Linked DNA regions of Homo sapiens: region 1 is linked to region 2. The links come from fine-mapping of genetic effects on gene expression. A gene starts in region 2. The other region holds a variant in brackets. All regions are shown on one strand. Distances are from middle to middle. Region 1 overlaps ART4 (ADP-ribosyltransferase 4 (inactive) (Dombrock blood group)). Region 2 holds the start of C12orf60 (chromosome 12 open reading frame 60).

Region 1 (5,386 bases), 29 kb after region 2:
GAGCATATGTCTTTCTAAACTTTTGTCAAAGTTTGTGTTAAAATCAAATTATATGAATCCCTACAGAGACTTAGGAAGCCTTAATACCACTTTAGCAGGTCAATCATTAGAATGGTTCTCAAACGATTTTTGTTTTTTTTTCCTCTTCACTGAGGCTAAAGATCACAAGGATTTCCAGTCCCACCCTTTCCCAGTATTTAGAGAGCTTAAGGGTCTCTGTTAGGCCACACAGTAAGTGACAGAGCCAGTATTTAACCTAGAGAGTCTGATTTAAGAGATTATATGTTGAGCTTCCTGGAATGTAATGTCAATTCTCAGTCCTCACTGTATTTGACCTATCAACCATATTTATGGTAGTGAATCACTCCATCCTCCTTGATACTTACTCTTCATTTTGCTCTTAGGACACCAACTCTATCAATTTTCTCCTCCCTCACTGGCCATTCCTTCTCCATTTTTTTTTTTTTTTTTGAGATGGGTCTTGCTCTGTCACCCAGGCTAGAGTACAGCAGTGTGATCTCTGCTCACTGCAACATCAGCTCAAGTGATTCTTCCACCTCAGCCTCCCAAGTAGCTGGGTCTACAGGTGCACACCACCATGCCTGGCTATTTTTTTTTTGTATTTTTGGTAGAGACGGGGTTTTACCACATTGCCCAGGCTGGTCTCGAACTCCTGAGCTCAAGCAGTCCACCTACCTCGGCCTCCCAGAGTGCTGGGATTATAGGTGTGAGCCATCACACCTGGCCTCTCCATCTTCTTTGTACTTGACCTTTTAAAATGGGAGTGTCCTGAGGTTTGATCCTTGGACATTTTCTCTCCTTTATTTATACACCTTTGTGGGGAGCTCATCCAGTCTCTTGGCTTTAAATACCACCCATAACCCACTGACCTCAAATTTATCTTTCCATCCTGGGTCACTCGGAATTCTACACTTGTGCATCAACTGTCCACTCAACATCTCTGCTTGGGTTACTATTGCACAGCTCAGATATAACATGTCAAATACCAAACTCCTGCTCTTAAATCTACTCCATCCCCAGGCTTCTCCATCTCAGTGAGTGCCACCTCCATCCTTTCAGTTACTCTAGCCAAACCTTGGAGTCATTCTTCACTCTTCTTTTTCCCTCACTTTTCACTTCCAGTGTGTCAGGACCTCCTTTTGGCTCTGAATCTGGTCAAACCTTACTGCCTCCACTCTACCACCTTCATCTCTCAACTGAATGATTGAAATAGCCCCCTACTTGGTTTCTCTGCTTACCTCATTACAGTTTATCCTCTACTGGGCTGCTAGGTCAGTTTTGACACAATCTTCTATGTTTTCTGCCCAAAACCTCTCAGTGGTATCCTATCTAAGAGGAAAAGCCAAAGTCCTTACAACTGCCTTCAAGGTCCTATGTGATCGAATCTACATCATCTTCTGTCTTCGCTTTCTATTATTTTTCTCTCATTCCCGTACACTGGCATCCTTGCTGTTGCTTCTTACTTGAGACATTTGCACTTGCTGTGCTTTCTTCCTGGAATGCTCTTTCCTCAGATATACATGGGACTGGCTCTCTCATCTCCTTTCAACCTTGGCTCAAATGTCACCCTCTCAGTGAAGTTTCCCCTGATCACCCAGTTTAATATTGCCACTCCTTCCCATAGTGTTCACTGTCTCCTTACTCTGCTTTATTTTTCATCTTAGTATGTACCACCTACTAACTACGACATAATTTACTTATTTATTTTGTTTATTTCTGCCTCACATCAATAGAATGTAAATCCCCAAGGGCAGGGATTTTCACCTATTTCCTTCCCTGCACCTAGGATAGTGCCTAGCAAATAACAAGTGACCAATAAATACTGATTTGTTGAATGAATGAATAATAGCTGCTATTATGATGATACCCAAATAAGAGACAAACACATAGACACTACTGTCTTGCAATCATAGTCATTCTTCAAAAAAATTCATAAGTCCTCTTTATAATAATTAGGATGTTAAAAATAGCTTCCTTTTGATTTTATTATGTCAGGTTAAAGTAACTAACTCTGTTGATACTTTTTCTCTACCTCTTTTATGGCCATTATCATTTCTACCTGGCATTATTATTATTATTGTTGTTACATGGACCATATATTTAGGAAAATAAATGAAAGACAGCTGTGCATTAATTACAAACTAAAGTTTTATTTGAGGATACCTCACATTTTTTTTACTTTTGTAGTTGTCTTTAGTTTTCTATTCAACTATCTCTTCAAAGTTTTTAATTTTCTCTTTACCTTTTTACAGGATTTTTAAAATTGGAGAATGTGATCAATTGATGGGTTGTGACATCAGCTTAGGAGGTCATAGCCATCATTGTTTAATAATGTAATAAAATAAGTTAGAATAGAAACACTAGCATTAACACTGCCTATGAAAAGGGTAACTGTTGTATTTTATGAATATGTGTGTATTTGCATATTTATGTGTGTGTGAACTGATTTATAATGTAAACAGTCATAGTCAAGAAGCTTAAAACTAACGGTAGTTTCTCAGCTATATTTGTTGAAGAATGGATGAATCCCCTGAAACCAGTCTATGGAGAATATTGTCCTGGAATTCTTATTAGAAAACATGGGGAAGGATCCTATTTTTGTCATTTGTAAACTATGAATAATTTTACGCAAATCCCTTAAGCTCTCTGAATCTCAGCATTCACATCAGTACAGCGGAGTCAATAACCTGACTTACAGGGTGATTGTGAAAACTAAACAGATAATGGGTGTCCAAGCGTTTTGTAAACTAAACTGCCAAACAAATATCATTTTATCAGTGTATTATAACCTGATTTTGGTCATCTCTGCCTTAGGGTATAAAGTCTGGAAGAAATACATAATGATTATAACTTTTATTTCATGAAGTCTGAATCTGAATTTTATCAGACTGTTCAGAAGTAAATAGTCCTTAAACAGAAAAAGGTAAAGCTGAC[G/A]TGCAGTATACCAAGTCTAGTGTTTGAGGCAAATGCTATCTATAGCCTCTTTCTGTCAAAATGCAAGGAGCAAGAGTGTTAATATTGTAGAATATTACCTAGCAAAAACTTAGCACCCGAAAATGAAAAGCGTTATTCCTTCTGCCTCTTCCTTTGTTTCTCTTCTTACTATCAATTTCACTGAAGCACATGCTTGTGCCATTAAACCATTATCCCACTTCCATGTGCAAAGTACTTTCCCAGAGTTTCTCAGTTGTGTTTGAAAGGAGGCAGAGACACCAATGCTATCACAACATTCCCACAAGATGAGTATCACTTCCATTTTATAAATGAAGAAACAGGCTCAGAGGTTAAGTCATTTGCACAAGGTCACCTAGCTACTAACATATACCCAAATCTTTCTGGCTCCAAAGTTTATTCACTTTCCACCATGCCGTGTGGTCTCCCAGATTTATTCAATGACTCATTCTTTCATCCATTTATCTGAGACAGACACTCTACTTCAAGGTCATTGTGATGCCACAAATAGGGTAAACTAATTTTAGATAATTGAAGCCCAGAGTAAAAGAAAACAGGCAAAATAGAAAGCTAATAAAATAAATAATAATAATGATAATAGTATCTTAAAAGTTTTGAGTACTTAACATTTGTCAGATACTATTCTAAGAGATTTTACATGCATTCATTCATTTTCTCCCCACTAGAATCGTACAGGTTTTTAAAAAGTGAAGTTTACATGTAAAACCAGGCTGACTACAAACAATTGCCTATATTTCTCTAGAAACATGTTAAGAATTTTGATTATGTGAAACATTTTAACAAATAAATCCCTGTTCTTTGTGAATCCAATGATATAGAACAGAGCATGTATTTGTGTGTCTACAGATTTTTGGCATAGGTTATTTTGCTGAAAGAAGCAAGATTTAAGGGCAAATAACTAACATTCTGTTAACATATTTTGAGTCTTCCAATGGGCATGAAGACACCTGTTTCTATGGCAACCAGTACAGGTCATGTGAGGGGTGATGGAATAATTAGAGAGGAAAGCTGTTAGTTTAGAATGACAATTTTTCCTTTTGCAAATTTACTTCCTTAAATAGTATAATTCTATTAATTTGATCTCTTGTCTCTCTAAAAGCAACAGATTCCTGGAAACTCTTTAAACTTGAGTTACATGCTAACAGGACTGATTTTAGCATAAATTGAAGGACTGGAGAAGCTATGCTCTTAAATATACTGTCTCTTCTTTGGGAGAATTACAGTATGCTGCTGGGTAATTTTAAAGGTCTTCAAGTGGTCTTTCCAGTATCACGTCTGTCAGATTGAGAGGGAACAGGAGAGAAAACATAATTCACTTGGCTTATAGGGACTTCTGGGGACACAGAATAGCTTGTGGCTCCTGCTCATGAAACAAAACGAAGCTGAAAGAATGAGAAATAGTGTCCAGAGAAGATTACAGTTTCGTGAGGAGTTAGATATCAGTGTTCCAGAACACCATCTGTGAATTCCCTAGGCTGGGGTTAGTGGAGCAGTGAAGTGGGAAATGGTAGCTATCTAGAAAGTTGGGTCTGGGGAGAGTCCACTGATCTTACTTCCTCCCTGTTAAGGATCCCAGATAAGAAAGACACACTACCTCCTTCCTCTTATTGTTCATGTATGGCTCAGTCCAATACTGCTCCAGAATGTTGGGGTAAGTACTACTTATCAGTTAAAATAAATCACTTTAAGGACCTTTCTGATGTTCCTTCGCTTACTGATTGAGAGAAAAACAAAGAAACAAAGAAACAAACAAACAACACTGTAGCGAATAACTGAAAACATTCTGAAGGCAATCAAACTTTTTTTTTTTTTTTGACGGAGTCTCATTCTGTTGCCCAGGCTGGAGTGCAGTGGCGCGATCTTGGCTCACTGCCACCTCTGCCTCCTGGGTTCAAGTGATTCTACTGCCTCAGCCTCCTGAGTAGCTGGGATTACAGGCTCGTGCCACCACTCCTGGCTAATTTTTGTATTTTTAGTAGAGACGGCTTTCACCATGTTGGTCAGGCTGGTCTCGATCTCCTGACCTTGTGATCCACCTGCCTCGACCTCCCAAAGTGCTGAGATTATAGGTGTGAGCCACTGCACCTGGCTGGCAATCAAACATTTTTTAAATCATAAGAGATAGATATTGTGTCCTGTCCAAGACTGTATTCAGTAGTGTCCCTTTATCCTTAGTGGATACATTCCAAGACATTCAGTGGATTCCTGAAACTACAGGTAGTAGTGAACCCTATGTTATTTTCATATGTGTATGTATGTATATACATATATATATATATCATCAATGATAAAGTTTGAAGTGTGGCAGCAAAACTAGCATGAATTTCTTTTTCCTTCTTCACAATTCCACAGGTAGAAGATTCATTTTTACAGTAGATCTTAGCAACCTCAG
Region 2 (5,386 bases):
ACCAATCTCTGAAAAAAAATTCCTTTAATTAGAAATTCTGTGAGACTGTTCTTTCCTTAGTTTTGACTTTAATGTCCAAGAAAGATGGCATCACCTTTCTTGACCATGAAAATTTAGATCTCTATCATTCTTCAGAAATGTGATGAGTGTGAAGACCACTTTGAATATCCTCAAGTCATCAGTTTAGCTTTTTTCTTATGGATCACAGCACTGACTTTGTCAACTGATAAAAACAACTAGAAAATGCTTTAACGATATGGCACAAACCATGAACATCAGAATTCATTAGTCCTTCTTCTATAACCTCCCTTTATTAACATGTAATTGTAAAAGAAGAATAAGAAGGGAATGGGGGTAATGGATCTAGGCTCAAAACACATACCTCACCTTTGCCTCTCTCCATGGTTTTTCTTGGCATGTATGCTGTACATTCTCAATACTTCTAAGACACTAAAAACTCATTAATTTAAGCATATTTAATTCAGATTCAGTTCTAGTTCAGATATAATGCTTGACTCTCAAGAGTTCAAAACACAACTAAAAATGCAAATATTTGAAATTAGTGCTATACTGAGAGCTCCCCAAAACTTAAATATTAAGACACATATTTTTCTTACTAAGACCTGACTCCCAATATATATTTCTTAAGGTAATTAAAGGGAATACTTATTTTTGTTTGAGGAAAAAATATTTTGTAAGCTAAAACTTTTATTAACACAGTACCCTATTACATGACTTCTTCCTCTTATTCCAAAATAATGGGGCTTAATTTTTTGAAGCGCAGTCTTTCCAGTAATAAAGGCGGACAAATTTGCTTCCTTTTGCAAGTAGACACTTTTTAAAGGTAAGAAAGGGAAGATTTTGTCAGCCCAGTTTATTACAGTTAATGTCTCTTTCACCAAGTGTCCAACTGCCCCGAAAGCCAGATGTTTCAGAAAGCCAGATGTTTCACAGCTGTTCTGGTGGCAATTACTTCAAGACAGCGGTATCAAAGGCTCTGATTTTTAGCTTCCTCATCTAAAAAATGGGGACATCAATTACTTTATAACAAAGCTCTGATGATACAATGAGATTACAAATAAAATATCCTGTGATGTTTGACTCACTACTTAACTAAAATCTTTATAATGGATCCATATTCCTGGCCTAGCTACCATACACCCTGTCAAGTGGTTTCCTTCTAAGAAAAACTGGGGATGGGGGGGTTAGGGGGGTGGGAGAGCAGCAGGGAGTAGGAGGTAGGGAAGGAGGAAAACAAGCAAAATCAGTACATATACAAGCTCTCCCATCTTTGATTGCCTGCGTTTTTTGTGCTTTCCTTTCTCAAGTTTCCTCAGGCTCATGTTCTGAATCTCCTCCCCCACAAATGAAACACAACGGATACGAATTACAGAGAATTTTACGGAAGACACTGGAGCTTAAGTCTGCAGATTAGTTTTTTGTCTACAAGCGGAGGCGACTGGAAAATCAAGCCAAATAAGCGTTGGATAACTCTAAACAGCCAAAGAAGCTTCAATGGGATAGGGTCCAGGTTCACCAAAGGAGGCAACACCAGCAACTGACGAAACCATAGCGACGGCTGACCGACCATGACTCGAGGTACAAGACGTCAAACCTAAGGCTACTAATCAACGTGCGTAAGAAGCGGCCCCAACCGACCCGGGCGATGCCAACCGCGCAACCACTGGTCGCCGCGCCACCCCAGGCCCAGGAATAGCCCAGTCCGCAACAGGGAGACCTCAACCAGGGAGAGGAGGAGCGGGGCAAAGGGGCTGGGTGTCCCCCAAGCCGCTGCGCGGGACGTGGAAGGGACGAAAGAGGTGAGGAAGAGTAGTAAATCAATTCAATACACTCACACTTCTGCTGTGCTCCCAGGACTACGAGAAGCGGGTAGGGGGCGACTCCCGGCCTCTTTCACTTCGTAAAGGCCTTCAACTGGGTCTCTCGGTCAACCCCTCAGCTACCGCCATCTTGAAACCTCGCGCCCCTCCGCACTCCTCACGTCATTTCCCATTCCTCTGTCCCGCCTTCTCTTAGCGCCGCTTGACCCTGGAACCATAGAGAATACCCAAGAATTCCAGGACCAGAGTCTCTTCCGGTTCCATACAATACTCAATTGGTTGGTTGTCGGCTAAGAGCCCGCCTCATTGCGCTCATCTAGTACAATAGGAATTAGAAGAAGATAGCTGCTAACTGAGTGGCTGACGGTCCTGTCTCTCGAGTTGGAGGCATCTTGACTTAGTTGCTGGGAGCCTGGTACGTTGAGCCGTCCGAGAACGGTACATTCTGCAGATAAAGAAGCGTTCTGCGTTTTCTGTCTTTTGGAATTACCTTAGTTTTTGCATTTTTCTGTTTCTTATGACCCAAGCAGGTGCGATCCTTTAGGGGTGTCTCCGTGTGTAAACGAATACCCAGATAACATTTGCCACTGAGTTTAATCCGCTTTGTAAGCATCAGGTTATCCCATGTGAGCGCCTAGTACGTGTGGAAATTTAATAGACAGGCAGAACAGAACGTTTGTAGACCACCTGAACAAATAAATTAGCACCCGTATTAGAGTCGCAGATTGCTTATATGGGCGGTGATTTATTATTTGTTAGTAGTGTTTTGAAGAAGAAATACGGGGATACATATGCAGTCGGTTTTAAGTTATATGAGTGGCAAGGTTGATATATATTGGCTATATTCCCGACTGGTCTTTTCACCAGCCAAAAGTCCTCTATGATGTCACTCTACGTACGGGATTCTTCACTTAACTCTAGCCTTCGCCCTTTCCCTACCTTCTATCCCCTCTTTCCGTGAGTCAGCCCCCACTTATTTCCCTTAAAGGTAAGTTTAAACATTTAAAAAACTATCTTAGAGGATACGCTTGGTTATTTCTAATCTTAACCTGACTATCCCATGTAGGAAGGCTATTCTTACCACCAGTTATAAATATTTCAAAATATTGATGGAGATACATACTAATTTTTAGCAGAATCTTTAAACTGCCCTTGAAGGTATAAGATCGGTCCTATACCTAAACTTACCTTTGTGTTAGGAAATTCTTGATTTGATTTTAGACTGAATTTGAGTGTCAGAAAGCAATGACGAGATATTGTAGGTTAAAGCTGATAAACCAGGTAGTACATAAAAAAGAAAATAATCTTGAACTGCGAAGGTGAGCTAAGTTGTAATGTTTTGCAACTAGTTTTTTTTCTTTCCTAACACATTAGTGATCATAGTTTTGCAACTCGTTTTGAAAAACAATGCAAGAAGAGAAAGAGAAAACAGTGTATGTTGGAAATATTAAAGTCTTTCATGTAGCTAAAATTTTATATGTAGCTACTATTTTTAAGATATGCTGAGCAGTTTTTATTTCAATACATTTCTTGTACTTGGATGGGAGAATCAACTATAACAAACACAGTCTGGCATCAACAGCATATTAATAATTTTGTCAGTATAGACTAAAAGAGTCCTCATGGGAATTATTGGTTGGCAAAGGATTTAGAAAACAAACACATCTGCAGAGATTCAGCGGAACCATTAATAGGCTTCCATAGCCTTTGGCGTTTTCTAAAATCAGGTAATTAGTGAAATGGCCCACCTAATGCGTCATGTAGCAAAGGCAGCTGCCTCCTTTTTGCTAGTGTTGAAAATGAAATTATATTCTTTTTTCTGAAAGCTTATAATAAATTATGACTTTCTTTTAAATGACAAATGCTTTGAGTAGTGACCTTCTATTCTGCATCCTAAATGCAATATGTGTAGCTGTGTTTTGCTTTCTTGTCTTCTAAATGTTTCAGTGTTTGAACATTCACTTGAGCGATATTTAATTATCACAGTTGGTCAGGGTTGATTGCAGTGACTGAAACAGGACCTTGATGTTTTTAGTTTTGATTTTTACCATTTTCAAATCCATCCGGTTTACATTGTGTAATCAGTAGACGTTTACAGATCAGCTTCCTGTCCTAATTGAAGCACATTGTTACAAACCATTTTTCAGTCTCTTCTAGTTTACAGAAAACCAGATTTACTCTGATGGTCAAAAATATGGTAGTATTTCTGTCTCATTCGAAGGCCTAGAGTTTGTGTCTAGGCAGAAGTTACTGAGTATGTCCCCTTATAACTAAATGATGTTTGAAGCTGGTGGTAGAAATGAAAGTCTCTGCATTCAATGTGAAATTTAAGAATTTTACTGAAATTAGAAAAGAGAAAAGTAACCCCTATACTTGCTACTCTACGATAGCATTTACCCCAATGTTGATCTGGTAGAGCAGGGTGTGAAAACATCCAGGGAGAAAATTTTTTTACCTCACAGGGTCTAGCATCAGCTGATCCAGGCATTGTTGACTCAAAACTCATCTAGTCATCTAGTCTTGGCATCTCCAGTTTCCCTCTCCAAATTGTTTATCTTATTTAAGTCCATATTGGAAGCCTATAGAAAATGAACCTAATCAAAGAAGCAAACACTGTTACTGAAAAGGAAGCAGAAAAACACTTCAGTGGCAAATAAAACGGCTGTTCATTTCATTTGGTGTTTCACTGTATTGATGACCTCAGTAATGGCATGATTATATTTTTCTGAGGCTGATTTGAACTCCACCAGATGCTTCTCATAACTTTTGATGGCTGCTTGAAGCTGTGTTTTTTCCACTGCTCCCAGGATGGCACGGACAATCATATCTATGCCAAGGCCAAGAACAGCAACTCCAATACTACCAAGGAGAGAAGCACCAATTTGAGCTAACACAGTGACCAACTTGTTAATTATGCCAGTTGTGACATTTGAGCCCACAAGTTTAACAGCGACTGCACTGGCTGCAGATGTAGCTTCTCCCAGGATGACCGAAATAACCTTTTGCACTATTGCAATTTTGTCTGTTTCCTTTTCCTTAATATCCTGAAGTTTTCTATAGAGGGTTGGCTCTAGCTTATCTTTTAGTGCTTCATCAACCTTCTGCAATTCCTTTTGGATTTTCATAATGGCTTGGATGATGAGGTCACAGTTTTCTTTGATGGTCCCATCTCTTTTCATCTCAATGGAGGCCAGCCTGCACCCCAAGTGCATATTTAGAACCTCAGTCAGCTTATTGGTGACATCGAAGCTGTCAGATAAGCAATCAAGAAGCTGCTGGTGAAGACGATTTACTTCTTCCCGCCTTTTTGGGTTCTCTGGGTAAAGGAAGTCACTTTGGGCCATATTTCCAATATGATCGCTGAAAAATAAAATGGTAAATTTTTACTGAAAGTCTTAAAAAATGTCTGCTAACTGTGTAGAAGGGACTAGGAAATCTTTTTCTTCATGCATAGCAAAGAAGCAAGATGCTGTCTAAGGATAATTCCTCAGAACACTCAACAAGTTTTTTTAAAAGAGGGAGTATCGCTGTGTCACCCAGGCTGG

What was found.
Region 1: its variant is fine-mapped to the expression of C12orf60 in thyroid (GTEx, PIP above 0.99). The same link has a PIP of 0.9 or more in atrial appendage, breast, left ventricle, lung, subcutaneous fat and sun-exposed skin.

The regions. Positions count from the first base shown.
Region 1 is chr12:14,830,818-14,836,203 of GRCh38, forward strand. The region is part of intron 2 of ART4 (ADP-ribosyltransferase 4 (inactive) (Dombrock blood group)); the gene reads right to left. Among named protein-coding and RNA genes, the nearest start is that of ART4, 10 kb to the right of the region's middle. The variant G/A (reference allele first, on the strand shown) is at 2,956.
Region 2 is chr12:14,801,496-14,806,881 of GRCh38, forward strand. C12orf60 (chromosome 12 open reading frame 60) reads left to right here and starts at 2,175. Exons shown (of 2, transcript NM_175874.4): 1 at 2,175-2,256. It overlaps WBP11 (WW domain binding protein 11), which reads right to left and starts at 1,983. Exons shown (of 12, transcript NM_016312.3): 1 at 1,857-1,983. It overlaps SMCO3 (single-pass membrane protein with coiled-coil domains 3), which reads right to left. Exons shown (of 2, transcript NM_001013698.2): 2 at 3,155-5,201. The coding sequence starts at 5,185. The coding sequence ends at 4,508. RefSeq lists an enhancer at 2,279-2,518.